Homo sapiens: one gene and its partners. The protein of the gene in region 5 purifies or fractionates together with the protein of the main gene of each other region. This does not show direct contact. Each region holds a gene or a part of one and is shown on either strand. Other genes may lie near its edges.

Region 1 (4,351 bases), on a different chromosome or scaffold from region 5:
TCCAACACATTTCTCAGCATCAAGTTCTGTAGTCAATCTTTTGCCCATATCCTCTCCTAGTACGCTATACTAATATTAAACTTCAAAATATGTCAAATCAGGATGGTTATGTTATTCTGAAAATGTAAACCACTCTAACAGAAATTATCTGGCAGAGGTAAGATTTAAATATCTTTATTTAATTAACAGAGCCTAACACAGTTCCTGACCCATAATGGGTGTTTTTAAATATGTTAAATAATTACCTTAATTTTTGGCCTGTAATTCATATCTCGAAAGAGTTTTGTTTCTTCATAGTCCTTGTAATTACCTAAAAATCCATATTTATACTTTCAAAGACAAAATGAAGATCTTCGGAGCAAACCATTCCTGTTCTAACATTAACAGGAACATTTCATACCAATATATACTTACCATAACAAAGTTTGGGGAAAATGAGCACATACAATATCTCAAGATGTTTACAAACCTCAAATTCTAAAATATGAGAATTTAAAATTATGAAAGAAAAATTCAATCAAGGAAATTCTGTTATCTTTTCAATGAACTTCTCAATTGTTTGCAGATCTGTATTCCTTCCACAGGGATTTTATGGTGTTTCTAGAAATATAAGTTGTTCTTGGAACATGCTAGTATATGTACAAGTAAACTTTACAAATACGTGAAAAGACCCATGTTAACTTTAAAAAGGTGTTATTGTCTGAATCTTTGTGTCACCCCAAAATTGTTATGTTAAAATCTTAACCCCCAAGGTGATGGTATTAGGAGGTGGGGCTTTTGGGAGGTGAGTAGGTCATAAGGGCAGAGCCCTCATGATGAGATTAGTGCCAAATTAAAGAGGCCCAAGGGAGCTCCTTGCCCCTTCTGCCACATGAGGGCACAGTGAAAAGGTGCCGTTTACGAACCAGGACACAGCCCTTACCAGACACCAAATCTGCCAGCACCTTGATCTTGGACTTCCCAGCCTCCAGAACTGGGAGAGATAAATTTCTGCTGTTTATAAGCCCCCCACTCTGTGGTATTCTGTTATAGCAGCCCAAACATAGTAAGACAAAGAGTAACATGAAAAAAGTGCTCTGCCATAGTTTTAGCATCACTGTTTTAATTTCATGAAATACAAGTACAAAACATTGTATAAGTATACTTTTTACTACATGGAGATGAACTAATACATTTATGTTTTTATCAGAATCTGTATCACCCAGCGCTGGTCAATGTACTAGTAGCTTTCCACAGGGATTTTTTATACTATTCCTATAAGGTTTTATCATGAATAAAAAAGCTCACAACTCTTTTCAGCCATTGCAGATTCACATTTATCTTAATATTCCTGTTCAAGATGCTCTGGAGAACTGTTAAGAACTACAAAATCACCTTAGGCAGAGTTTTGAATGAGTAATTTTATTTCACGTTGGCCAAGATCTCCCTTATGTTGGCATTGCAAAGACACTGCACTTATCTGAGGTTAGAAAAAATGTAGTCTTAATAGCCCTCTTAATGTGTAGCAAGGCAAATTACCATTTCCTAAAATGTCCAGAATATCATAGTAGTTAGTTATTCGTTAAGCAGTAAGTCATGAAACTCCACTTATAGAAGACAATAGCAACAGAGGACCACTAAGTCCTAAATATACCAAAGAAAAACAAGTTTACAAATATTCAAACTGTCTGTCTTCTCTACCTCTAAAATGGTTTAACCACATCAAGTGAGAGTAACATCAGCCAATTAGAAAGGGAAAAAGTAAACTGTGCTAGCGTCCGGCATTCAGCTTCCATAGCATGTCTCACAGTTTTCGGCCATTTCAGCTAAGAGTTTTCTTATGACAGGCAAAAATAATGATTAAAATACCATTAGCTTTGCTGAGAAATGTGGAAAAAAAAATCACAATGTCAAAAATATTTGAAACTAATTTTGTTTTTATAAATAAATAAAATGGTGTTTATCTTTTCTTAAAATTCTTGCTGTTAAAACATTCAAAGTTATGTCAACCTGTAAGGATAAAGGGGTATTTAAGATAACATGTTTGGAAAACTAAACCACATTTTTAATTGCCAGCATTATGCTTTGTTCTTGGTAGAGTCATCCTTGTTTCTTCTTTTTACATCCCAATTATAAACCCTGGCCATATCTGCAAGAATTGTCAAAGAAAATGCAAATGCAATTCTAAAGATAATGCATGCAATGACTAAGTATTCACTCCACTCACACAATGAATCAAAGACACAGAAATGAAACATATACAAATACTGGTAACAAATAGTATTGTAAGACATCCTGCTATAATGTCAATTGTTAGGAAAATACTATAATTAAACTCTATCAAAACTAAGGACTCAAATTAATTGTTAACCCATTGTTTACTATGGTATTAGTCAACTGTCAGCTAGTCAACTATGATATATTTAACAAATATGTACTAGACACTCTCGATAGTTTTAAAGACAGTCCCTCATCCAAGAAATCTGAAAGATCACTCAACCCATATCCTGCCATGTAATATTTATATTATTACAATTATCAATAATTTTATCTCTTACCCTCCCTTTGGCTTAACAAGTTTATTAAGCATCTACTGTATTTTTGACTAGGCACTGTACAAAGCCCTGACCTGAATAAGACAGGTGAAGTTCTTTTCCTCGTGGAGCTTAGACTCCAGTAGAATGTCAATGTAACAGAGACTGTCCACCCTAGCTCCCTCACTTGTCTGCACACCTTCCTTTCCTACCTTTTGCAGTACTAGCAATAACAAATGGCATTTAACTAAGCTTGTAGGACTCATCTTAGAGGATTTCCTCACTTTTGGCTCCTGTACCCATCTAAGTCACTGGATCCTGTTTTTTTCTCACACGTTTAATATCTTTTCCTTTCCACAAGCCACCCGTCCTAGGCCCTCGTCATCTCATAGCTGGATGAAGTTTCCACACTACCCGTCAGATGATGATGACCACTGCACTAGGCCCCAACAGGCCTGCCTTCCCTCAGCCAACCATAAACAACTGCCACATGCTGCACACTGGAAAAGAAGAGAAAGTGCAGCTCCTACATCTGAAGAGCTCACGGTTTGGCAAGGTAAAACTAAGCAGTATGTGTTAAGCAAGCACACAAGAAACACTCTGAGGATCAGAAAATGTTCAGGAAAGCTCTGATGCTTGGACTGAGATATTTAGGGTAAAAGGGTAAAAAAAGAGCACATCCTGTAAATATGGGAAAGTCATTCCAGTTAGGAGGAACAAAGTGTAGAAATGCAAAGGGTGTGGCACAATTGGGGAGTGTGTACAATAACTGACTGGGGTTATCTGGAACCTGGAATGCACTGGGGAAAGGCAAGAAGAGGTCAGTGGCATGAGGTGAGACAAGCTGGGGGCACTTCACAAGAGTGCCTATATGTATATCTTGTAAGTAACAAGGAACCGTTGAAATATTGTAACCAGAGGAATAAAAATGAGTGACCTAGTAAATTCATACTAGAGATAGTGGGAAGGACAGATGGAATGAGAGGAACCTAAAAAGGTTCTGAGTGCAGGTTTTGGAGCCCCAGAACGAGAACAGTAATGGGCAGAGAGATTTATGAGGGAAATTTGATGTGAATCTGGCGACTGATTTATTATTGGTAGTGAGGAAGAGAGAAGTGTGAAAGGTGACTCCCGTGATTTTGTCTTGAGTGACTGTGACAGGAAGTAGGAGGAAAAGACAGGCCAGAGAAGAAAGGCAAAGAGCTTGCCTTCCCCCTTGACCAGAATACCCCACTCCCACCTCTTCTCTCTGCTGATCTTTAAACCCTACGCCGCCTTTAAAAAAGCAGCCTAACTTTTATCTTCTCAACAAAGCCTTCTTTGAACTAAGTCCAGCCTACATCTATCTTTCCCAAAGTTTAAATTGCCTTGGTGTTGCATATGTTAACTTACTTATAGTTTGCTATGAATTATCATTCAGCTGTTTTACATGTACAGTTCTACCAGAGAAAGGCACTGCCACTCTTTTCTAAAATTGATTTTCATGCCCCATATGTCTTAGCACAGTTGCAGGAACATAGGAGACCCTTAAATGCTTGTGAAATTAAACTATTTAACCAGTTATAAAGTTGTCTTGGGAAAATATTTGGAAGAAAAATACTTACTCACCTATGTGAATTTGCTGTTTCCACATCACATTTCAAAATCACTAATCTATCTACAAACTTATTTAAGTACTAGTTCCGAATATCTTATTTATTATCTTATAAAATCTATAACCTTTATATTAGCCTAATAAGGAAATTCTTCCCACTAAAGCAATGTAAGAAAGAATGTGGGAGGTTTTTTGTATTCTAATTTTTTTTTAGTTCTAGGGTACATGTGCAGGATGTGCAGGT
Region 2 (3,500 bases), on a different chromosome or scaffold from region 5:
TAGGCTGGGTACAGTGGCACATACCTGTAATCCCAGCACTTTGGGAGGCCAACGCAGGCGAATCACTTGAGGCCTGGGCAACATGGTGAAACCCTGCCTCTACAAAAAATACAAAAATTAGCTGGGCGTGGTGGTGTGACCCTGTAGTCTCAGCTACTTAGGAGGCTGAGGTGGGAGGATGGCTTGAGCCCAGAAAGCAGAGGTTGCAGTGAGCCGAAATCCCACCACTGCACTCCAGCCTGGGTGACAGAGCCAGACCCCGTCTTCAAAAATAAAATAAAATTTCTACATAGTCCCAGCTATTCAGGAGGCTGAGGTGAAAGGTTCACATGATCCCAGGAGTTTGAGGCCAGCCTAGGCAACATAGTAAGACCCTGTCTCTAAAATAAAATAAAATTCTACAAAATGCAGGGTTGGGGGCAAGCAGAAGGGAGGAAAAGAATATAGGAGAGAGGGAGGGACTACAAAGGAGCACAAGAAAACTTTTGGTGGTGACAGATATGTTCATATCTTGATTGCAGTGATTGTTTCACAGGTATAAATATATATGTCAAAACTCATCAAACTGTACCCTTAAAAATATGTGCAGTTTATTATATGCCAATTGCAACTCAATGAATCTGTGAACAATAACAACAAAAAGTACTCCTATACATATATAACCTGGAGTGGGGACAGCAATCTACTAATTTCCTAGGAAATTTTACTAAAGTGAAGTAATCAAGATGGTAGTGCCAGTGTGTACTGGTGATAACAAGGATCAGAAGGAATACCAGATAAAAATTATTCCTAAGGCACTGGAACCCAGAGAAGACAGAAATCTCTTGATAATCTAATGTAATATCAATCTCTTTTGATAAATAATATAGAGCCAAGTTCTGTAGTTCCCCAAGGAGAATACACCAGATTAAGACAAAGCAGTTAGAATATCATGAATTCCCATTAACTGATACTTGCAAAACTCTTCCATATACACACACATACATACGTATTTGTATATATTCACATGTATATAAACTTTTTACTATATGTGTATATATAATGTAAGTATGTGTGTGTGTGTGTATACTTAGTCTTATACAAAAATAGGATCATTCTATAAATTTTTTTTTTTTCTGAGACAGGGTCTTACTCTGTCACCCAGGCTGGAGTGCAGTGACACCATCTTAGCTTACTGCAGCCTTGATCTCCCAGGCTTAAGCAGTCCTCCCACAGCCTCCTGAGTAGCTGGGACTACACATGCATGCCACCACACACAGCTAATTTTTGTTTTTGAAAAACTGCTATTTATTTGACCAGAAAAACATTTTGGACTTAAGAAATGGCAATAACTGGCACATATACTAATTCAAAATATTTTCACAAAGCACCAAATAGAATAGTTCCCAATCTTTTCACTGAGAAACCTTTGAAAGAATGCCTAAAACTTAATCAGTTTACTTAGGTTTTTAATCAAGAAATCTAAAGCAGCCAATCAGAGTTTCTAATTACCATGAGATGACCAGGTTAACAACCTTGAGGTTGCAGGAGCTTTTAAAAGCTTTGTTTAGGCTGGGCTCAGTGGCTCATGCCCATAATCCTTGCACTTTGGGAAGCCGAGATGTGAGGATCACTTGAGGCCAGGAGTTTGAGACCAGCCTGGTCAATATAGTGAGACCCCATCTCTATAAAGATAAAATTAAATTAAATTTAAAAAAAAAAAAGCTTTGTTTAACCTACGCATTCTAACTGAGATTTGTTGACCTCAGGCTACTAATCACAGGTCCATGTGCCAGATACCTTGCACACACAAAATTGAGTAATAAGTATCATGTATAAAAGATAAAGACTATATGGTCCCTGTATATTTAAAAGGAATAATACCTAATTCTCATGGGTGAACAATTAGTGAGGGGCAAAGAGACAGACAGAAATTACTAACCCACAAGGGAGAACCAAGCAAGGTCAGTAGAAAAGAGAAAAGTCCTGTGCTCTGGGAATGCAGCAGAAAGGGCATTGGGAGGTTGCAGGGACCAGGCAGCAATCCAGGTCATACCAGGAACATGAGTGGATGTCAGTAAGTGTGGGAAGGAGCCTTCAAGGCTGAAAAAAACTAAACAAGCCAAGACACAGAGCCACAGGAGTACTGCCTGTTCAGAAGACAGTGAAGCATGTGTTCTGGGTAACACGATGTGAACTAAGAAGAGACATAAAACTCAGGAAAACCTCACCCAACGAGAGCCCAGAAACAACACTGGTCTGTATTTCTTAACAGCAATTCAACAGAGAATCTGAGGTGGCCTGCAAAACTAACAAGAGAGTAAATTATCTTGAAAGGGCAGGGGCACCACATGCTCTCTGTGGAGGTTCAGTAGCCAAGGATCACCCTGCAGCCCCTCCCCAACCCTACTGTGACACCCCAGACCCTTGGAATCAAATCCACTAGCAATAACCTTCCTTAATGGAAAATCTCTCCCCTCCCCAAATGTAAAACAAAAGATAAAAGCAAAGAAAACAAAACAAAAAGAGACCATCAGAGCAAGCTTTAGCCCTCATAACTCATCTATGCCCCACTGACAACAGGGTCTACTCCATTACTTAAACTGATTTGTAACACTGCTCCTACTACATCCTCCTCTTCAAAAAAAGTAAATAAACACCACACAAAATATAAACTTACCCCAAACAAAAGTCAGCATCAACCTAAGGATCCTACCGTAATGTTACTACGCTAACCCAGGATATTTTAATCTTCTTCCAAACCATTTACAAAAAAATTCCTCATCTGAGACCTCTGGAAGCGTTACAAATACTGTTACATTAGATTGTTCTTCTTGAGGTAGTTTTAAGTCTTGAAACAAAAAATTTACCTATTTTTCTACACCACTGCTAAGGGGTTAATTATTATAAAATGCCTACAACCAAAATCCCCATCCCCTTGATTCTCAAGCTATTAGAAATTTTTCCCTCATATCAAACAAATGGGAAACACACATAAAAAGATGAAAAGTCATGCAAAAATTTTTAAAAGGCCAGACACAGTGGCTTATACTGGTAATCCCAACACTTTGGGAGGCTGGGGTGGGTAGAATTGCCTGAGCTCAGTAGTTCGAGACCAGCCCGAGCAACATGGTGAAACACCGTCTCTCTAAAAATACAAAAATTAGCTGGGCATGGTGGCAGGCACCTGTGGTCCCAGCTATTTGGGAGGCTGAGGTGGAAGGATCGCTTAAGCCAGGAGGGTGGAAGTTGCAATGAGCTGTGAAGGTGCCACTGCTATGTAGCCTGGGCAACAGAGGAAGATTCTGTCTCAAAAATAAAAATAAAAATAAAAAACAAGCAAAAAAAAAAACCCACATAAAAAAGAAAGTGTATCATCATACGAACAGTCTAAACTTTGCCTAAGACAAAAAAAAGTTTACTTGGTTTACCCAAGGTACAGGCATGTTATAAATAAAGTACTCAAGAAATTAACATCTTATAAAAATAGTGAAAAAATTTTAGGTGGGAGCATAAAACTA
Region 3 (4,410 bases), on a different chromosome or scaffold from region 5:
CTCTGCCTCTGGTGAAAAAGGTACAGAATGCCCAGAGGGCTCCTACAGAACAGGCTCACCCTGGAGTGCTCCCCAGACATGATCGTAACAGGGAAGGGGGGAGGGTCCAAGATCAACATAAAACCCAACATCAACCAGTTAACACCCAGCCAGCAAAGTCAAGTGGCTCAATTCCGTGCTTCACACACATACCAACAAGTCTCACATCTCACTAAAATGCAAAACTGGCTCATTCAATATTACACTATAAGCCTATGGACTAGGTAATGCAAAAGGTATTGAGAATAAGCACAAAGAATGTTTCTGAGCCTTCAATGTGTAGGAAAAATACATCCAACTTCACACGCCCAACCTGCAATTTTTGCTTAGATTTTACAATGGTCACTCTTCTTGTAAAGAACAATCCTGGCCGGTTCACTTATAGAAAATCTGGTAGACAGGTTCTTTTCCTATGTTACTCTCCTAAATTTACTCATTAAACAAAGTTAAACCATTACCTTAACCAATGATTCTCTAAGTGTGGTTCTGGACCAGCAGCTTCAGGAAACTTGTTAGGAACACATATTCTTGGGCCCCACTTCCATTCCTGCCAGAAACAAGGCAGGCAAGATCCAGCATCTGTAGTCCTAACAAGCCCTCCAGGCAATTCTTGTGTGTGTGCTAAAGTTTGAGATCCAAGAAGGTATGTTATGTATGCACATATATTCAAGTGTTCCTCACAATGGGACCAATAGTTTTTTTAATGCAGGATTTTTCAACGCATTAAAAATGCTAAGTAGGCCAGGTGCAGTGGCTCACACCTGTAATCCCAGCACTTTGGGAGGCCAAGGCAGGCGGATCACAAGGTCAGGAGTTCAAGACCAGCCTGGCCAATATGGTGAAACCCCATCTCTACTAAAAATACAAAAATTAGCCAGGTGTGGTGGCACGCGCCTGTAGTCCCAGCTACTTAGGAGGCTGCGGCAGGAGAATCACTTGAACCTGGGAGGCGGAGGCTGCAGTGAACCAAGATCACACCACTGCACTCCAGCCTGGGCGACACAGCGAGACTCCATCTCAATAAGAAAAAAATAAAAAAATTTAAAAAAGCTAAATATAGGGTCAGAGCTTTGGGAGGCCAGTTCAAAACAGCAACATAGGGAGACAAAAAATTAAAACATAAACTAGGCTAGTTGAGGCAGGACGATCCCTTGAGCCCAGGATTTGGAGCCTGCAGGGGCAGTCCCTCCTCATTAATGATCCAGCCACTGCACTCCAGCCTGGGAGACAGAAGGACATCCTGTCTCTTAAACATAATAATAATAAATTTAAAATAAATGCTAAGTATACTGTAAAATGCCAGTGTTCTAAGAACCATCTTACCAAATATCCTTTGTTAAAGTCATACTATTTTAGGATGCATGCAGTGGCTCATGCCTATAATCCCAGCACTTTGGGAGGCTGAGGCAGGTGGATCACCTGAGGTCCTGGTCATCATGGCGAAATTCTGTCTCTACTAAAAATACAAAAACTAGCTGGGTGTGGTGGCATGAGCCTGTAGTCCCAGCTACTTGGGAGGCTGAGGCAGGAGAATCACTTGAACCCGGGAGGTGGAGGTTGCAGTGAACAGAGATCGCGCCACTGCACTCCAGCCTGGGTGACAGAGTGAGACCCCATTTCAAAAATAAAAACAAAAATAAAAAGTGGGGCAGGGCACGGTGGCTCACACCTATAATCCTAGCACTTTGGGAGGCCGAGGTAGGCAGATCACTTGAGGTCAGGAGTTTGAGACCAGCCTGGGCAACATGATGAAACCCCATCTCTACTAAAAATACAATTGCGCCACTACACTCCAGTCTGGGTGACAGGGCAAGACTGTCTCAAAAAAAAAAAAAAGAAAAGGGAACAGGAAGAGATACACATCACGTTCTTGTACAGGAGAGTTCAACTGAAAGTGATTTCAATAAAAAATGATTATGATTATCAGGATGGTTGTTGCAGCAGAGCGGGGAAGCTAAACAATTTGATGTTAAAAGTTTAAACAGAATAAACAAGCAAGGATGCCAGAGAGTTTCTGAAAAACAAGATTAATGAGGAGGGACCACCAAGCACTAGACCAGAAAACACTTAGAAGTCATATTTCTGAATAACAAAAGTACAGGTTATAGAGGCGTGACTAACATCACCAGGTTCTGTGGTTTGATGCTGTACAAGTGCACTATGGTAACCAGACCACCGAGACACACAAACAGGCACACTGACAAGTGACATGGCAGGATGATGACTATAGATGATACAGCACTCCCAAGAAGGAACGAGACAAACTTCCATTCTAACCTTTACCATCTTCTATTTTCTACTTTAGACAACTAGCTACATCTGCCTTCTGTTGAAAATTCCATGCCAATTCCACTGCTGCCAACAATTTTCAGAGATGAGTTACTTCCCAACACCTCCCCACAGGCCCCAAGAAAGAAGCTTATTCATAATCTCATTTGACTCTTTAATATCCAAAAAGTCCAGGGAAGCCAAAGCTAGTAAACGGGGCCCAGACCTTAAGTCCTTTGCCTCCAAATCCAATGATCTACTTTTAAAAACCCAATTTAATTATGCAGCAACATTAAAAACTAAACTTAGGGATAAAAAAGGTTTTACCATCAGTTTGACATGCCTCAAACCAAAAAAAAGTCATCCTTCCTCTGCAAATAAGCATTCCTTCTTCACTTCCTATCATGCTGCTGCACTGCCAGACATCATTTGACAACGAACCCCAAACGACTCCAAGGATTCTATCAATGAAAATGCCCAGGCACTGTCTGTACCATTTTACAACACAGTCTAACCTCCAAGCAGAATTTCCAATTATTTAGCTGTCTTGCTAGCTTTCTCCCTCATATTCCTGGTATGGTGGTGTGCACAGCAGCAAGACTGAAGGAACAAGGAAGTAGCTAAAATGTTAACAAATAGCAAATCTTGTAAATATTTCATTCTACAAGACCCAAAGGCAGAATTCTAAAAACTACTCTTACTTTTTGACAACCGAGGAGACGTTTGCTATCTGTAGGGTTGGCAATTTCCACAAAAAGCCAAAATACATAATTTGTAGCTTTGCTGAGTCATGAAAGCTGACTAGCATGCCCTGATTGTCCAGGAGATCAAGTCTGACCTTGTGAGGGATTACTACCAAATTCCTAAAACCTGCATCTCAATATGGCTTTGTTGTTCTCTATTGGATTCTTAAAGTGATTTTTAAAATTTACTCTATTTGAAGAAATGATCACCACAGAAGGACGATCTCCTTCTTTATCAAATATAACCTTTAAATTATAAATGATAATCAGCTTGCCCACCTTTTTAGAATTAAAAAGAATAACCTTTCACTGAACATAATACAAATTTACCATTTCTCCGTGTTCATTGGGCTTATGCATAGGAGAAAATTTTAGGGCAAACTAAAAAGGTGGTTAACCTGTGATGTAATGATTTTCAGAGGAACACATGAGTAAATGTGATCAAGTACAAAGCTAGAGTCCTATCAAGTGCTTCTAACATTCAAGAATTTAGGTGATTACTGGAGGGGTTTTTCATGAATAGTTCCAGATTTATTCTTTGAGTAGGGTCTACAGTATACAATATGGACATTAAAAATATACAAGTGCAATGTTAAAATCAAAATAACATACACTAGGCTGGGCACTGTGGCTCACACCTGTAATCCCAGCACTTTGGGAAGTTGAGACAGGAGGATCGCTTGAGCTCAGAAGTTCAAAACCAGCCTGGGCAATATGGCAAGACCCTGTCTCTACTAAAAATACAAAAAAAAAAAAAACCCCAAAAAACAAACAAACAAAAAAATAGATGGGCATGATGGTGCACCAGTTGTCCCAGCTACTTGGGAGGCTGAGATGGGAGGATTGCTTGGGCCCAGGGGCGAAGGTTGCAGTGATCCCAGATCACACCACTGTACTCCAGCCAGGGCGACAGAGCAAGACCATCTCAAAAACAAAAACCCCCCAAAACATACACTAGTGACCACATTCTTCAGAAGCTTCTAAAAAAATATTTTTTTTAAAAAAAATCCCAGAACCCTTTCAAGGATAGCTCACTTGGGTACCCAATAAGTAAAAACCAAATCGACAGAGCAGCAGAGTTTCACAGTGAAAATACAGGCTGCCTTAGATCAACTGGTCCAACACCCAGTGCCCTTATTTTCATAAACAAAGAAACTGAGACAGTAAGATTACCTATGGTTAAAGTGTTAGTCAATGACCAGGCCAGAGGAGAATCGCTTGAACCTGGGAGGTGGAGGCTGCAGTGAGCCAAGATCGTGCCACTGCATTCCAGCCTGGGTAACAAAGCAAGACTCCGTCACACACACACAAAAAAGACCAAGGCCAGGCGCGGTGGCTCCCGCTTTTAATCCCAGCACTT
Region 4 (4,410 bases), on a different chromosome or scaffold from region 5:
TCCTGGGAATAACCATCTTTAAAGATGCTTTAAAGCCCAGAGTTTTTACCAGTGTTTCCCTGTGCCTTTGCATGTTTATCTAGAATTCCAGAGGCCTAAAATAAGGATCTAGAGCTATTCTAGGACATGCACTGCTTGGCTCATTGCTTCATTAACCTGACCTAGTTTAGCAAAAAATTTGCCAGCCCTCCTTCCATGAAAGTATTCACTCAGCTACTTTAATGGGGAATGTTAACAGTAATCTGACTCAAGTTTTTCAAAAGATTTTCTATTCTCCCTGTGGCCTTTACATCAGGGAAATATATGGGCAGGAAAAGGGAGGCAGCAACCTCTATGCTAGTTTCTGGAGAGAAACTATGGTATGAAAAGACTGCAAGTCCATGTGCTTTTTAAAAAGAAAAGGTCACAGATACATACCTGTTTCATCCTTGCTGCAGCTCTATTTGAAAATAGAATCGACCTCTCCTTTTGGAAGCAGGATGGGCACATTTCGAGGGCTCGACTATAAGAACTTTCAGCTTCTATATAATCTGAGGATAAGAGAAAGGATGAATGGTCATTTTGATTTTATTCCTGATACTACTATATTCCACAGGATCTCAGAAGCACTGTTTTCCATTCATAGGATGAAGGTTTTGAGTTAAAAGATGGTAACAGTCTATTAAGTCTGGCGCAGTAAAAATCATTTCTTCTTTTCTTCTCTCTTTAAAGGAACAGTGCTTGCTTGTGCCAATCTCACAGGCTGTGCTTGGTGAACTGACAGCTGAACATGCTGTCAGTGACAAGCCCTCAATACTCAGGAGTCCTGGCATTCCCTCAATGTTCAGTTTTCATTTGGCTGGGCAATTCAGAAAGGAGTTTTCAAAGGAGGTTACAGAACTGGACAGAGGAAAGAGACTAAACTCTGGGATCCATGGCCTGAGATAAAGAAAAAAATTATACATATTTGTTTTCATTAAATCTGTTGTGCTTTCATACAGTCAACCTGGCTAAAACAGCATCCGTGAAATGTTTGAAGAGAGACATTTGATAGAGCTAAAAGGAACAATGTAAAAATCAATATTTAAATCAAGACCTTAAAAGAGAAAATGGTGAAAAAGAGAATTATGGTCAGGATACTAATAGAAAATTGCCTATGTACTCCTTTCTCAGGTTTGAAATATTTAATATTAACATACAAAAAATATGCTTCCAAAATTAGAAGTGTTTATTCTATTAGAAAACAGTATTAATGATTACTAAACCAAGATATAGGAAAAAAAAAAAAACCCTAAAATCTGAAATCAGGTAATAGGGTAACTTTTGGAAAACAATAAGAAAAAAATTAAAAACCTGAAAATAACTAGCGGAAAATGTTAACACTCCTAGATTTCTGAAGCATATACACTTTAAGATGTGACAGAAGACTTTTGCTCTAAGATCAAATAGTTACCCCAAATTATCAGAATGAACCCCACCAACTTATTTCTAAGCAAATGTAGAAAATGCAGAAGGACATGAAGAATCTCCCTACTTAAGGCATCCAAAGAAAATGGCACATGAAAGAGCAACCTTTCTGAAGCAGTTTGGAGAATTTAAAAAAAGAAAGAAAGAAAGAAAGAGCAACCAAAGGACAGGCAGCCCTAGGCCATACCAGAGCAGTCAGGCTGCTTTCACAGCCCCACAGCAAGTGAGGAGCGGCGACTCTGCTTTCACAGCAATGCAGCACATAACCTTTAATATTCCAGGTTAGTGTTTTCCAAAGCAAGAGCTCAAGAGTTTTACCCCTGATTCTAGACTAACAGATAGTGGATTACAGAAAGACTATGCATGTGCCAAGAGACAAATGGTAACTGGTCACCATCAGATGAATAATTTGGCCTGGTTAAAAACTCAAAATGCCAAGGTACTGGGAAGCAACACTGTATTGTGAAGTCTGGTTTTGGGGTTTCTTCAGATGTTCTTTGGGGTTTCTTCACAGACTCTACAACAGGATGAGGAGTCAAGATGACCAGATTATCAGTGCTGAAAGTCGTCTTACCTCCTTTCTTAAACTGTTCATTTCCCTCCTCCTTTAGTCTAGTGCTCTCTTCTCTTCTTTTCTGAAAGACATCAGAGAATTACATAATTTCTCACAATATTATTATAAGTGAACAAAAAGGTGAGCTTTCCTTATGCACAAGTCTATTTAATAGGCAACAGTCTGACTTTTGAGAACTGCATCAGTTTCACCAAAACCTTGTACAGTGATAGAGGAAAAAAAACACATGACCATCAGGCTAATTATCAATTGCATTCTTGATGTTTAAAACAAAAAATGTAGGTCTTCTTGGCATGTCCTTTGCTTTCTATGTTTCTATCTTTTGCAATGGAATGATAATTACAGTATCACTTAATTTCTACTTACTCAGAAATGAAACTAAATAACATACCCACTGGTGTGCATACCAGTGTAAATTCAAATTGTAGCTTCTAGTACTTACTAGTTATGTGGCCTCGGACAAGTTTCAGAATCTTTCTGAGCCTTAGTTTCTTCATTTCAAAAATGAAGCTTTAATAGTATTATGGACTACTGTTTAATGGATTAATGTCATAATATACATAAAGCTGCCCATACAGTGACTAGCAAATAAGGGCTCAATAAATAAGCTATTATTTTCTGTGAAATAAGTACTTTAATCCTTATAAGAACCCTTCATGGTTTGTGTCATGAAGGAGACACAGTATGCTAGGAGAGCACATTTGTGGGTACAAGCCAAGTCTGTAGGGTTAGGGCAGTATACTGTTAGCAGGTTAACATAGGAAAATGTGAAGAAACCTAAATAAATAAGTCTGTCTTTTCTTAGCTTATTCAAACAACTCAGAAACTCACATAGATGGCCAAAAACTCATCAAACACAAAGGCTGAGAGAATGTTATCCTGCAAAGCAAAGTAGACGCATGCTGAGTGTGTGCACTTTTTTGTGGAACATCTTAACAATATAACTGGCACAAGCCAAACCAGAAGAGTCTGTATGCCTGCCACCTTTTGACAGTGCTTTAAAACAAAAACAACAAAAAAACCCCAAAAACAGAAAATCTACCAAAGTCCCTTAAAAAAAAAAAAAAAAAAAAAGAGATAGGGTCTCACTATGTTGTCCAGGCTAGAGTGCAGTGTCTATTCACAGATGTGATCAACACACACTATAACCTTGAACTCTTGGACTCAAGTGATCCTTCTGCCTCAGCCTCCTGAGTAGATGGGACTATAGGTGCACACCACTGTGCTGGGCTCTTTCCTCCTTCTTGAAGCTTCTGATTAAGTAATTTCAAAGGGAGGAAATACAGTTAGCATTCTGATTAAGTAATTTCAAAGGGAGGAAATACAGTTAGCAGGGTATTTCATGCACAAGAGAAGCCTGGAACCTAAACAATTGGTCCTTTTAACATGAGGAACTGATATGATCTGTGTTCCTACCCAAATATCCCCACGGGTCAAGGGACGGACCCTGGATCATGGGGACGGTTCCCCCATGTTGTTCTCATGATAGTGAGTTCACTTTCATGAGAACTGATGGTTTTCAAGTGCCACACTTTAAAACCATCAGCTTTCTCTTCACTTTCCGCCATGATTGTTAAGTTTCCTGAGGCCTCTATAGCCATGTGGAACTGTGAGTCAATTCAACCTCTTTTGTTTATAAATCACCCACTCTCAGGCAATTCTTAATAGCAGTGTGAAAATGGATTAATACAGGAACCAAAATAAAAACATTCTTTCTCTGGAAAAGATTTGTCAATATGCTATTGATGAGACCGGGTATTTCCCAAATGTCTTATTATTACACTATGGATTAAACAGAGCACTTGATGAATCTCAGTGAGGAAACTAAAAGGTAAGTATAGAGTGAATCTAATTTTTATGGTACATACTATGTGCCAGACACACAGCAGGTACAAATAACAATTCATTTTAAGATATAACGTATCTGAGGGAAGGGCTATTCTAAAGGAATTCAGAAAAAAATAAAATATAAGAATATGGCCATATTTACCTAGTACTACCCATAAGAAAGATGCTTAGATTGTAATGATCTCTACTGTATTGATTAGGGTTACTGGATGCAAGCAAAAGACTATCTTAAGCAAAAAACTTTAGGGGGCAGGTTTACTGGCAAGGTATCAGTGCTCACAGAATCAGTGAGAGGCTTAACGAATAGGCTTAGAAAGCAGGTAGAACTTGGCTGGGCGTGGTGGCTCACGCCTGTAATCCCAGCACTTTGGGAGGCTGAGGCAGGCAGATCATGAGGTCAAGAGATTGAGACCATCCTGGCCGACATAGTGAAACCCTGTCTCTACTAAAAATACCCCCCCAAAAAAAAAAATTAGCTGGGTGTGGTGGCAGGCGCCTGTAGTCCCAGCTACTCAGGAGTCTGAGGCAGGAGAATCACTCGA
Region 5 (4,299 bases):
GACTACAGCAATCTTATCACCAAGGACTGGGTGCAGCTGGACCGGCCTTTCGAAGGTGAAGCCTCCCACCCGCCAAAGCCCCAGAGAGCTGAGAGCAGGGTCAGAAGCTGGGGCTGGTACTGAGAGTGGGATGAGAGGGGTCAACGGTGGTACAGCCCTCCCTCTGGCAGGCTCTTTCTCCCTGCCCCAAGTGTCCCAAGGAGTCCAGCCCTGACATCTCCCCTGACTCTCCTGGGACCCCCCAGATTTCATTGACAGGGAGACGACCCCTCGGATGCCATGGCGGGACGTTGGGGTGGTCGTCCATGGCCTACCGGCCCGGGACCTTGCCCGGCACTTCATCCAGCGCTGGAACTTCACCAAGGTGTTCATTCCCTCCGATAGGGGCTGGAGGTAGGGAGGGAGCCAGGGCAGATTGGCACCTCCTGCTGACTCTGCCATCCCTCCACGTCAGACCACCAAGGCCAAGTACAAGACTCCCACATACCCCTACCTGCTTCCCAAGTCTACCAGCACGGCCAATCAGCTCCCCTTCACACTTCCAGGAGGGCAGTGCACCACCGTACAGGTGAGGCCCCCCACTTCAGCCAGCCCTCCCCTTTGTCTCCTTCAGCCTAACACCCCAACCCACTCTCCCTGGTGTGAGAGCTGCCCACACTCTCCTTTCCTGGGGTTAAGAAGCACATCACGGCCAGGCACGGTGGCTCACGCCTATAATCCCAGCACTTTGGAAGGCCAAGGCAGGCGGATCACAAGGTCCGGAGATCGAGACCATCCTGGCTAACATGGTGAAACCCCATCTCTACTAAAAATACAAAAAATTAGCCGGGCGTGGTGGTGCGTACCTGTAGTCCCAGCTACTAGGGAGGCTAAGGCAGGAGAATCGCTTGAACCCAGGAGGAGGATGTTGTAGTGAGCTGAGATCACGCCACTGCACTCCAGCCTGGGCAACAGAGTGAGACTCCATCTCAAAAATAAAATAAAAGGCCAGGCGCAGTGGCTTACGCCTGTAATCCCAGCACTTTGGGAGGCCGAGGCAGGCGGATCACGAGGTCCGGAGAGCAAGACCATCCTGGCTAACACCATGAAACCCTGTCTCTACTAAAAATACAAAAAATTAGCCGGGAGTGGTGGTGCGTACCTGTAGTCCCAGCTACTTAGGAGGCTGAGGCAGGAGAATGGCGTGAACCCAGGAGGAGGAGCTTGCAGTGAGCGGAGATCATGCCACTGCACTCCAGCCTAGGCAACAGAGCGAGACTCTGTCTTAAAAAAGAAAAGAAATGAAGCACATCGCATTCACCATTCCCTAGGTCTTGCGATCAGTGGACCGCTGGTCAGCAGGGACTCTGGAGAACTCCATCCTCAATGCCTACCTGCACACCATCAGGGAGAGCCAGCACTTCCTCTACATTGAGGTCTGACTGGGAGGAGGTGGGGGAGAGCATGGAAGGGGTGTCCCAGGAGAGAGACCTGGGGAATGAGTGGAGTCAGTCATTGAGGGCTGGTGGAGCAGAAGCAGACGCCTGGAGCCTGGGACCAAGGCTGGAGGCCGAGGACAGGGCCAGGGGCCAGGCTGCTGATGTCTGTCTCTGATTCTTGCCCCAGAATCAGTTCTTCATTAGCTGCTCAGATGGGCGGACGGTTCTGAACAAGGTGGGCGATGAGATTGTGGACAGAATCCTGAAGGCCCACAAGTAAGGTGGACTGTCAGGAAGGTGGGGACTGTGGGTGTGGTTTGAGCCCGGTTGAAGGGGGTGGGGTTTGAGGGACCAGTCGCACCTCTGACTCCACCCCCTCCCCAGACAGGGGTGGTGTTACCGAGTCTACGTGCTTTTGCCCTTACTCCCTGGCTTCGAGGGTGACATCTCCACGGGCGGTGGCAACTCCATCCAGGCCATTCTGCACTTTACTTACAGGTGACCCCCCAGGCGGACTCCAGCTCTCAGTGGCCCCATCCCACCCGTGTCCCCCTCCTGATTCTGTCCTGATCCCTTCCTGCTGGGCCTTAAAGAAGGGCCACCTCTCCTGACCTCCCCTCCCCTCTGCCAGCCTCCACTTCTCTCCCTCTTTCTTTTCTCTCAGGACCCTGTGTCGTGGGGAGTATTCAATCCTGCATCGCCTTAAAGCAGCCAGTGAGTGCTGGGGGCTGGGGGCTCAAGCCCTGGGCCCCTGGGAGAGGGAGATTGGGGCGCTGCAGGCCTGGGGGTGGGGGAAGGAGGCTGTCACTCCTGTGAGCCTCTGACGCTACGCAGACCATAGCTGGCCTTTCACTGCAGGGAGAAGGAGAGAGACCAGACTCTATGTAGGAAGAGTTTCTGGAGTGAGAGGAGGTGGGACAGGGCCCTGTGCACACAGAGCCACCTCTCACCTCACTTCCCCTCCTGTCACGCAGTGGGGACAGCATGGCGGGACTATATTTCCATCTGCGGGCTTCGTACACACGGAGAGCTGGGCGGGCACCCCGTCTCGGAGCTCATCTACATCCACAGCAAGGTGCTCATCGCAGATGACCGGACAGTCATCATTGGTCAGTGCCGGATCTAGTCCTCTGGCAGGGAGAGGGTGTGGGGACAGGCGAAGAGATGAGAGGCAGGATGACAGAGACTGCAGCTGAGGCTCGTGTAGGGGTGGAGGGTCCAAGAAGGAATGTTGCAGGCCAGTGCTTTGGTAGAGGGGATGGGGTACTGGGGAGAGTGCCCTGGGCCCAAGCACACAGTGTGCCCCGCATCCACCCCAGGTTCTGCAAACATCAATGACCGGAGCTTGCTGGGGAAGCGGGACAGTGAGCTGGCCGTGCTGATCGAGGACACAGAGACGGAACCATCCCTCATGAATGGGGCAGAGTATCAGGCGGGCAGGTTTGCCTTGAGTCTGCGGAAGCACTGCTTCGGGTAGAGCTGGGGCGGGATGCCACAGGGTGGGAGGGAGATGGGGGCGTCTGCCTTTTGAGCAGGACAAGAGGTAGCACCGCATAGGTACTCCCGGAGCCAGAGGTAGAGGCAGTACTAGATTCTCAATAGGCAAGGCTGGGCGCGGCAGCTCACGCCTCTAATCCCAGCACTTTGGGAGGCCAAGGCGGGTGGATTGCCTGAGGTCAGGATTTTGAGACCAGCCTGGCTAACATAGTGAAACCCGTCTCTACTAAAAATACAAAAAATCAGCTGGGTGTGGTGGCGGGCGCCTGTGATCCCAGCTACTAGGACTAATCAGTTTAGAGTATCAGTAAAGCAGGAACACCAAAAAACAAAAAGAGAAAAAAATCTTTTTTTTTTGAGACGGAGTTTTGCTCTTGTTGCCCAGGCTGGAGTGCAATGGCGAGATCTCAGCTCACTGCAACCTCTGCCCTGGGTTCAAGCGATTCTCCTGCCTCAGCCTCCCGAGTAGCTGGGATTACAGGCATGCGCCACCACGCCCAGCTAATTTTGTATTTTTAGTAGAGATGGGGTTTCGCCGTGTTGGTCAGGCTGGTCTCGAACTCCCGACCTCAGGTGATCCACCCACTTCAGCATTCCAAAGTGCTGGGATTACAGGCGTGAGCCACTGCACCTGGCCACGAAAAAGAAATCTTTTTTGTTGTTGTTGTTGTTGTTGTTGAGACACGGTTTCACTCTTGTCGCCCAGGCTGGAGTGCAATGGCACGATCCTGGCTCACTGCAACCTCCGCCTCCTGGGTTCAAGCAATTCTTCTGCCTCAGCCTCCGGAGTAGCTGGGATTACAGGCGCCCACCACCACGCCCAGCTAATTTTTGTATTTTTAGTAGAGACAGGGTTTCGCTGTGTTGGCCAGGCTGATCTTGAACTCCTGACCTCAGGCTTCGGCCTCCCAAAGTGCTGGGATTACAGGCATGAACCACCGCCCCTGGCCAAAAAAAAAAAAAAATCTTTTTTTTTTTTCTTTTTTTTTGAGAGGGAGTCTCACTGTCGCCCAGGCTGGAGTGCAGTGGCGCGATCTCGGCTCACTGCAGGCTCCGCCGCCCAGGGTTCATGCCATTCTCCTGCCTCAGCCTCCCGAGTAGCTGGGACTACAGGCACCCGCCACCTCGCCCGGCTAATTTTTTGTATTTTTAGTAGAGACGGGGTTTCACCGTGTTAGCCAGGATGGTCTAGATCTCTTGACCTCGTGATCTGCCCGCCTCCGCCTCCCAAAGTGCTGGGATTACAGGCATGAGCCACCACGCCCGGCCAAAAAAAAAAAACTTTTGTGTTTTGTTTGTTTGTTTGTTTTCTTTTTGAGACGGAGTCGCTCTGTCACCCACGCTGGAGTGCAGTGGCGCGATCTCGGCTCACTGCAAGCTCCGC
Region 6 (4,410 bases), on a different chromosome or scaffold from region 5:
CAACCACAACTCACTGTAGCCTTGATCTCCCCAGGATCAAGTGATCTTTCCACCTCATCCTCCCAAGTAGCTGGACCACAGGTGCATGCCACCATGCCTGGCTAATTTTTTTTCTTTTTTTTTTTTTTTGAGAAGGAGTCTCACTCTGTTGCCCAGGCTGGAGTGCAGTGGTGCAATCTTGGCTCACTGCAACCTCTGCTTCCCGGCTTCAAGCAATTCTCCTGCCTCAGCCTCCCGAGTAGCTGGGATTACAGGCGCCCACAACCATGCCTGGCTAATTTTTGTATTTTTAGTAGAGATGAGGTTTCACCATGTTGGCCAGGCTGGTCTCAAATTTCTGACCTCAGGTGATCCACCCTTCCTCAGCCTCCCAAAGTGTTGGGATTACAGGCGTGAGTCACTGCGCCCAGCCGTGGTTTTTTTTTTTAGAAACAAGTGTTTTGCCATGCTGCCCAGGCTGGTCTCAAATCCATAGGTTCAAGTGATCTCCCCACCTCAGCCTCCCAAAGTGTTGGGACCACAGGCATGAGCCACCATGCTTGGCCAGAAAGAAGTTGTTAACAAAATACTTTCACCTACTATGTCCAGAGTATTTATTCGGATGATATTAGGAAGTCGATGTTCTAAATAAAAAGGACCTGATATGTAGAATTATTTCATTACTTAAACATTACAAAAATTAGCACAAGCTATACTACCAGCAACAAAAGGTTATTTAGGTAAAAAGCCATTTCTTTTTAATTCTTTGAAGTTGGTACATCCCCTTCACTAAGCCTGGAAACATATGTGTATCTGTTTTAATCTTCCAAACTTTTACTAAAATAAGGTAATTACCAAAAAAGGATAACTGTTATTAGTAGGTTAGAAAACACTGCTATTATCAGCTAATGTTTCTTAAATAATGGCACCAAGACTGTGGAGGTTAAAAGGAAAAAAAAAAAAAAGACATTTCATAAAATGATAATATATCCTCATATTAACACACAGCATCACGACTAAGATGATAAATTACACCCCAAATGCAAAACCTTGTAAGGAGCTATGTCAAATTCATTCAAGCTTACCTTGCAGGTAAGATTAAAACTATTAAGTTAGTCTCTGTCTGGTTGTTCAAAATTCCTCCCTTCCTACAAAATACTTAAGTTACAACCAAAACTGTAGTTAATATAAAAACTTGAGCCAAAAAGTGATGGGAGTCAATTCTGTTGTTTTTTTTTTTTTTTTGGACACAGGATCTCACTCTGTCACCCAGGCTGGATTGCAGTGGCAGCGATGATGGCTCACAGCAGCCTTGACCTCCTGGGCTTAGGTGATCCTCCCATCTCAGCCTCTCAAACAGCTGAGACCATAGGCGCGCCACCATGGCTGGCTAATTTTTTTTTTAAATTTCTTGTAGAAACAAAGACTCACTATGTTGCCCAGGCTGGTTTCAAATTCCCAGGCTCAAGTGGTCGTCCTGCCTTGGCCTACCAAAGTACTGGGATCACAGGCATAAGCCACCACGCCCTGACTCAAACTGTACTTTATACATAAAACTAAGCCAAAAGGTGATGGAGTTGATTCTGAACAAAGTCAACCTGGAAAACTCCATCTGCCACCCACACCCATTCTAAAGCTCAATGACAGACATCTGAATGTTCTCCAGTAAAACAGTGGCAAAAGCTGCCTGGCTGTTTTTAAAACTCTTACCACTTTCGTCTTTAGGATAAAGCTATTCCCTGAACTTGTAACTCTTAATAATTTACTGTACTAGAAAAAGCAATGTGTGATACTAGTCATACTGATGAATAATGCCAGCACAAGACTGTAAAATAACCCAAACTCAAAAGTAAATTCTATTCAGCTTCTAGAAAATACATCCCAGAGTCACCGTTCTATAATAAATGGGGGATTTCAGCAAAACTGTTACCCCATTTTACCTAGAAAACTTAGCTCCATCATTACATTTAAACAAGCTAAATAACTGAGACTTAGAAAAAAGTATTAGGTAGCATGATTTCAATATATACAGTGCTAATATGGCCTGATGACAATACTGTAATCTCACACCATAACACTGCATTTTCAGTAACGTTCAATTATGCTGGTCAGGCATGGTGTCTCGTTCCTATAATCCTGTCATTTTGAGAGGCTGAGGCGGGTGGATTGCTTGAGCCCAGGAGTTCAAGACCAGCCTGGGCAACATGGCAAAACCTCATCTTTACAAAAAATACAGAAATTAGCTGGACATGGTAGCAGGCACCTGTAGTCATAGCTAGTCAGGAAGGGGAGATGGGAGGATCAGTCTGGGTGACAGAGTAAGACCTTGTCTCAAAAAAAAATTTTTTTTTTAATTAAGTAAATAAAAATTTATACTTCTTTTTGTTGGTTCTTCTGTCTTCGGTGAAGTTAGGGCTGCTCACACACAGTAGCAATGATACTTTTCAAAATAAACCAGGCCTAAGAGGCATGGTGGCTCATGCCTGTAATACTTTGGGAGGCGGAGGCGAGAGGATCTGCTTGAGCCTGTGAGACTGAGACTGAGGCTGCAGTGAGCCATGGCTGCGCCACTGCACTCCAGCATGGGCAGCAGAGCAAGACTCTGTCTATATAAATAAAATAAAATAAAATAAATAAAATAAAATAAAACAGTCCTAAGAAAAGGAAAGAAATAGGGAAATACTGTTGGACTCAAAAGTTAACATCTGCTTACTGTCAAAATTTTCTTTAGGAAAATCACAAAAACAAAAACATCCAAAAAAAACTTCCTAAAAAAATTTAGGAAGCTTCTAAAATGTGTCTAAGCAAAATAACCCCAATCTATCTTAAACACAGCAATGGACTGAGCTGTTCTTAATCTGTTGAAATACTAAAAAACAGAATGTTTCTCTTTTTTATGAGATAGTGTCTCACTCTGTTGCCCAGGCTAGAGTGCAGTGGTGCCATCTTGACTCACTGCAACCTCCGCCTCCCAAGTTCAAGCAATTCTCCTGCCTCAGCCTCCCAAGTAACTGGGGTTACGGGGGGTGTGCCACTGCACCCTGCTAATTTTTTTTTAATTTTTATTATTATTTTTTTTTGAGATGGAGTCTCGCTCTCTTACCCAGGCTGGAGTGCAGTGGTGCGATCTCAGCTCACTGCAAGCTCCGCCCCCTGGGTTTATGTCATTCTCCTGCCTCAGCCTCCTGAGTAGCTGGGAATACAGGCGCCTACCACTACGCCCGGCTAATTTTTTGTATATTTAGTAGAGACGGGGTTTCACCGTGTTAGCCAGGATGGTCTCCATCTCCTGACCTCGTGATCCACCTGCCTCAGCCTCCCAAAGTGCTGGGATTACAGGCGTGAGCCACCGCGCCTGGCCAATTTTTATATTTTTAGTAGAGATGGGGTTTCACCATGACCAGGCTGGTCTCAAACTCCTGACCTCAGGTGATCCGCCCCCCCCCCCCCCCCTCCGGAGCCTCCCAAAGTGCTGGGATTAACAGGCGTGAGCCACCACGCCGGGCCAGAATACAGACTTTTTCATTATTGTATTAAGAGATGGGGTTTGGATATGGTAGCTCACACCTGTAATCCCAGCACTTCGGGAGGCCAAGGCAGGAGGACTGCTTGAGCCCAGGAGTTGGAGATAGGCCTGGACAACACAGCAAGACCCTATCTCTGCTAAAAATAAAAAATTAGCCAGGTGTAGTCCCAGCTACTCAGGAGGCTGAGGTGAGAGGACTGCTTGAGCCCAGGAAGTCAAGGGTGCAGTGAACTACAATCATGTCACACTGCACACTGCACTCCAACCTGGGTGACAGAGTGAGACAATGTCTCCAAAAAAAAAAAAAAAAAAAAAAAAGGAAGATCAAAGAAGGAGGTTAAGAAGACAAATAATGAACACATCTACTACTGGACCATGAGACTAATTAAAAACTGGAAAGGTTCCTACCCCTTCTGAAGCCCACACTTCCCGGGCTTACCCATCAATAACAAGTATTGAAGAGTTTGGCCATCCCAAATACCTGCATCCTCTGCTGATTTTTGAAGGGCTTCTGCTAATTCTTGGTCTGCAATCTCCTCTGGCCGTACATCCTCTCTTCCAGCCCCATATGCCAACCGGGCACACTCTGGTAGCTCTCCCTCAGGAAGAAAGGTGGTCTGGGAGCCTGTGGTGCCGATCACGAGTACATTTTTCTTCAGGTCGATGGAACACTTGGAAGAAAGAAACCAAAGAATAATAGCAGATAAAACACCATGCAGAAAAATTATGCTCCTTAATTTAAAACTCCAATCACAAATGGCCAGGCACGGTGACTCATGCCTGTAATCCCAGCACTTTGGGAGGCTGAGGAGGGCAGATCACCTGAGGTCAGGAGTTCCAGACCAGCCTGGCCAACACGGTGAAACCCCACCTCTACTAAAAATACAAAAATTAACCAGGCGTGG
Region 7 (4,410 bases), on a different chromosome or scaffold from region 5:
GTCTAACCCTGTCACCCAGGCTGGAGTGCAGTGGCACGATCTTGGCTCACTGCAACCTCTGCCTCCTGAGTTCAAGCAGTTCTCCTGCCTCAGCCTCCTGAGTAGCTGGGATTACAGGCATGCGCCACCATGCCTGGCTAATTTTTGTATTTTTAGTAGAGACAAGGTTTTGCCTGGTTGGCCAGGCTGGTCTCAAACCCCTGACCTCAGGTGATCCACCCACCTCGGCCTCCCAAAGTGCTAGGAATTACAGGCACGAGCCACCTCACCGGCTGAAACTAGATTTTAACATTTCATTGTGGTTTCAGCCACCCCACCTCATCCCAGGGGATCTGTACCATTGGTATTTGATAAAACCTAGCCATCTCCTTTTCACATTTTAGATGTCCTAATTCCTCTTTTCCACGTTGTCTGGATCAACACTGATGATTTTTTAATTTCATGATATTTCAGAGTTTTTTAGTTTTACAAATAACTTTTTTTTTTTGATACGGAGTCTCACTCTGTCACCCAGGCTGGAGTGCAATGGCGAGGTCTCGGCTCACTGCAACCTCTGCCTCCTGGGCTCAAGAGATTGTCCTGCCTCAGCCTCCCAAGTAGCTGGGATTACAGGCACGCACCACCACGCCTGGCTAATTTTTGTATTTTTAGTAGAGACAGGGTTTCACCATGTTCGCCAGGCTGGTCTCAAACTCCTGACCTCGTGATTCACCCGCCTTGGCCTCCCAAAGTGCTGGGATTACAGGCATGAGCCACTGCCCCTGACCACAAATAACTTTTTATTCACCTGACTGCTGTTAAAAATTAGAATTTAAGATTGGACTCTTTGTGTAACTTAAACTGCTTTAAAATGATTTATTTTTGGCCCCAAATAAAATAAGGCAAAACATTTGCACTTACCATTGTCCATCTTGTGGAATATGTAGGCCTACACCTGTAATCTTTGAATTACTAGATTGTTCTTTGGTAAAGCAACAATAGGAAGGTCTTTGTGATTTTTTTAAACTGGAAATTTATATCTTAACTGTTGGTGACCAGTAAATATTGAAAGACTACTTTTGTCTTCTTTTAATAGTCTGGTCCTTAGAGTTATTATTAGACTATCTAAATGTAATTAATTGATCAGTAATTGTAATTTCTTATCTGTGGTTGGATAAACTGCTGTACATTTGAATAGCACCTCTAAATTGGCATCCTCGGTGGATTTCGCAACCAGAAGCATTTGCTTTCACTGATGGAAACCTGGCAGAATCCTGATGCCCTAACTGTCCTTTCTCCACCTGAGCAATAGCTACAGTTTTTAAAGGAATGAATAAATAGACAAATATTGTCTGTTTAGGGTTTGATATCAGAAAATAGAATGGAAAATCTGTATTTTTGTCTTTTGGCTTATGTTTACCTTAATGTAAAATGATCTGATAGAATTACTGGACTTCTGTCTATTGGGTTGGAGATTTTCCTTTACAATTAGTGTGCACAATTACCTTTTTTCTGGGATAGCAAAAACTTGTAAAGGAAGTGCAAAGGATATTCATAGTTGTTTTAATTAATGGGAATATTGGGGTATCACTGAAGAAAAGCATTTAGTCACAGTTGATAGTGTCTAAGACTGAGGTGCTTAAAGTATTAGATCATATTCCATTTTGAACTATTATAAAATCTACCATGATGTGCCATTTTGCTTCAGTAATTTTTTTAAACTTGAAGAATTAAAAAAAAATTTTAAATTGCAAGGCTTTTTAGAAGATCATATTATCCATAGTGCTTCTCAATCTGTGGGCTTGAGTCATCACGAGGGACCACCACACATATATTCCAAGCATGGTATCCTGGCTGTACCAATGTCCCAGATACTTCTTTTTCAAACATCCTGTGATTTTCTAGAAAAATGCACTTATTTAAAAGCATTATTGACTTCATTGTAACTTTTTTGTCCAATTGTTATTTAATCTGATGATAAAAAATGCATCATTCTTGTGTTCATATTTAGCATTAAATATGTTTAGCCCATGAAATGAGTTTAGCCCACATGAAATGGTTAGGAACCAATAATCTAAGCCAGCCTACTACAGTAGGAAAGGGAAGATGTACCTACACATTTTAGTAAAGGGTCGAGGACTGCATAAACTGTTGTTATTGGTCATCTTGTTTGAAATGAAGTCATTCTCTCCCCCAAATGATCTGTTTTGAGTCATTTTTAAAAAATCAATCAGGGACACCAATGACATTCCCTCTAAGCTTAGTTAACACTTTTCAATCTTAATCCTTGGCAGTATTTCATATTGTGCTCTAAATGTCATAACTTTTCCTGCTGCTTCTGAGGTACTCCATTTTCCTGATTTAAAAAAAAAAAAAAAAAAACCTGATACCAGCCTCATGGATTCTTAGTCTCCTTATCACAATACAGAGGTCATTTCATCTTTTCTGAAACTTCTCTCTACCTAAGCACACCACTATGTGATTTTATAACACCCTGGACTTTTCCATTTTATAGCACTTACCACGTGGTACTAGAATTGCTTATTGCTGTTTCCTGCTATGCTCTTGAATCTGTGAAGGCTGAGACTGGCTCTATCTTGTTCACCATTGTATTGCCAGAACCTAATACAGGTGCATAGCAAGTGTTGAATGAATGAAGTTTCATTTTTTGACTAATAATTAAGGGTTCCTTTGACATCCCTAAGTTTATATTTTATATATGTGTGTGTGTATGTATATATAAATTTCACAAGTGGTATATTTTTCAAATTTTCCAGCTCTTCATTTTTGTTCTACCAGTTAATGCTGGATTCCGTGGAAATCTTTTTTCCTTTCTCTTTTTTTTTTTTTTTTTGAGTTGGAGTCGCGCTCTGTCACCCAGGCTGGAGTGCAGTGGTGCAATCTCTGCTCACCGCAACATCCGCCTCCTGGGTTCAAGTGATTCTCCTCCCTCAGCCTCCTGAGTAGCTCGCCACCATGCCTGGTGAATTTTTTGTTTGTTTGTTTTGGGTTTTTTTGTTTGTTTTTTGAGATGGAGTCTCACTCTGTTGCCCAGGCTGGAGTGTAGTGGCGCAATCTCGGCTTACTGCAACCTCTGCCTCCCGGGTTCAACCGATTCTCCTGCCTCAGCCTCCCGAGTAGCTGGGATTACAGGCGAGTGCCACCACACCCTGCTAATTTTTTGTATTTTTAGTAGAGACAGAGTTTCACCATGTTAGCCAGGATGGTCTCAATCTCCTGACCTCATGCTCTGCCTGCCTCGGCCTCCCAAAGTGCTAGGATTACAGGCGTGAGCCACCGCGCCTGGCCGTAAATCTTAAACCTCATTTGGGCATACTTTTTGTAAATCAGTTGATTATGCATGACCTACAATCATAATCCTGCAGAAGCAGTCATTATAAAAGTATATTCTTCCTAGGTAAAGAGTTATTATGATTTAGTAGGTGGGGTTGGTTGTCATTTTTAAAATTTCCAGACGTGAAATGGGAAAGGACTTTTTTATTATCTTAGGTTTTATTCCTTATTAGGTTTGAATCCTTATTATCTTAGGTATTATTATCCTAGGTTTGATTCATATGAAAGTAACAATTGGTTGGCCAGGTACAGTGGCTCACACCTGTAATCCCAGCGCTTTGGGAAGCTGAGGCAGGTGGATCACCTGAGGGCAGGAGTTCAAGACTGGCCTGGCCAACATGGTGAAACCCCATCTCTACAAAAATACAAAAATTAGCCGGGCATGATGGTGGGTTTCTGTAATCCCAGCTACTCAGGAGACTGAGGGGAGAGGATCACTTGAACCCGGGAGGTGGAGGTTGCAATGAGCTGAGATCCTGCCATTGCACTCCAGCCTGGGTGACAGAGCAAAACTCTGTCTCAAAAAAAGAAAGAAAGTAAGTAAGTAACAATTGGTCAATAAGTATTGAAACATTGTTTCTCATACAGTAAGTGTTCCAGAGTTATTTAGGTTGCAGTGAGTGGACATCGTGCCCCCCTGGGCGACAGAGCAAAACTCTATCTCAAAAAAAAAAAAAGAAAAAGTAACAGTTGGTCAATAAGTATTGAAACATTGTTTCTCATACAGTAAGTGTTCCAGAGTTATTTGCTACTTCTATAAAGCTGTGATTCAAGTATAATATATGCTTTTTGAGTTTGAGAAATTTAAAACAATAAAACCATTTTAAGAGAAACATCAAACCATCTCAGGTATATTTTAACTGGGTATAAGTGTGTCATCATGGTGACAAATTAATACCCATTTTATTTTCTCACACGCAGATTAATGTACCTAATTCTAGCTCATTTTCTTTTACAGTGACTATACGTGATCATCAGGTTAATATTTTATAAATGCTGAGAATTTATAATAGTTTTCTTATTGCCAGATGTATATCATTGACAGCTTTTTGCAATGTAGTCATGTAATCGTGTTGC

What was found.
Region 1: the proteins of PLD2 (region 5) and VBP1 purify together in Homo sapiens (affinity purification with mass spectrometry, with the first as the bait; one large-scale study listed by BioGRID). This does not show direct contact.
Region 2: the proteins of PLD2 (region 5) and KIFBP purify together in Homo sapiens (affinity purification with mass spectrometry, with the first as the bait; one large-scale study listed by BioGRID). This does not show direct contact.
Region 3: the proteins of PLD2 (region 5) and DNAJA2 purify together in Homo sapiens (affinity purification with mass spectrometry; 3 studies listed by BioGRID and IntAct, with this or other methods). This does not show direct contact.
Region 4: the proteins of PLD2 (region 5) and TTC1 purify together in Homo sapiens (affinity purification with mass spectrometry, with the first as the bait; one large-scale study listed by BioGRID). This does not show direct contact.
Region 6: the proteins of PLD2 (region 5) and DDI2 purify together in Homo sapiens (affinity purification with mass spectrometry, with the first as the bait; one large-scale study listed by BioGRID). This does not show direct contact.
Region 7: the proteins of PLD2 (region 5) and TOMM70 purify together in Homo sapiens (affinity purification with mass spectrometry, with the first as the bait; one large-scale study listed by BioGRID). This does not show direct contact.

The regions. Positions count from the first base shown.
Region 1 is NC_000023.11:155,236,549-155,240,899, reverse strand, and holds the end of VBP1 (prefoldin subunit 3), read right to left. Parts: intron 2,129-4,351; coding exon 2,058-2,128; 3' UTR 1,059-2,057; downstream 1-1,058. UniProt on the Homo sapiens protein: Binds specifically to cytosolic chaperonin (c-CPN) and transfers target proteins to it. Binds to nascent polypeptide chain and promotes folding in an environment in which there are many competing pathways for nonnative proteins.
Region 2 is NC_000010.11:68,991,803-68,995,302, reverse strand, and holds part of KIFBP (KIF-binding protein), read right to left. Parts: exon of another isoform or gene 3,435-3,500; intron 1-3,434. UniProt on the Homo sapiens protein: Activator of KIF1B plus-end-directed microtubule motor activity. Required for organization of axonal microtubules, and axonal outgrowth and maintenance during peripheral and central nervous system development.
Region 3 is NC_000016.10:46,959,721-46,964,130, forward strand, and holds part of DNAJA2 (dnaJ homolog subfamily A member 2), read right to left. Parts: intron 1-4,410. UniProt on the Homo sapiens protein: Co-chaperone of Hsc70. Stimulates ATP hydrolysis and the folding of unfolded proteins mediated by HSPA1A/B (in vitro).
Region 4 is NC_000005.10:160,032,811-160,037,220, reverse strand, and holds part of TTC1 (tetratricopeptide repeat protein 1), read right to left. Parts: intron 2,082-4,410; coding exon 2,021-2,081; intron 531-2,020; coding exon 418-530; intron 1-417.
Region 5 is NC_000017.11:4,816,692-4,820,990, forward strand, and holds part of PLD2 (phospholipase D2), read left to right. Parts: coding exon 1-55; intron 56-245; coding exon 246-364; intron 365-384; coding exon of another isoform or gene 385-454; coding exon 455-568; intron 569-1,310; coding exon 1,311-1,415; intron 1,416-1,605; coding exon 1,606-1,694; intron 1,695-1,802; coding exon 1,803-1,916; intron 1,917-2,082; coding exon 2,083-2,132; intron 2,133-2,392; coding exon 2,393-2,527; intron 2,528-2,737; coding exon 2,738-2,891; intron 2,892-4,299.
Region 6 is NC_000001.11:15,651,472-15,655,881, reverse strand, and holds part of DDI2 (protein DDI1 homolog 2), read right to left. Parts: intron 4,177-4,410; coding exon 3,987-4,176; intron 1-3,986. UniProt on the Homo sapiens protein: Aspartic protease that mediates the cleavage of NFE2L1/NRF1 at 'Leu-104', thereby promoting release of NFE2L1/NRF1 from the endoplasmic reticulum membrane.
Region 7 is NC_000003.12:100,393,966-100,398,375, reverse strand, and holds part of TOMM70 (mitochondrial import receptor subunit TOM70), read left to right. Parts: intron 1-4,410. UniProt on the Homo sapiens protein: Acts as a receptor of the preprotein translocase complex of the outer mitochondrial membrane (TOM complex). Recognizes and mediates the translocation of mitochondrial preproteins from the cytosol into the mitochondria in a chaperone dependent manner.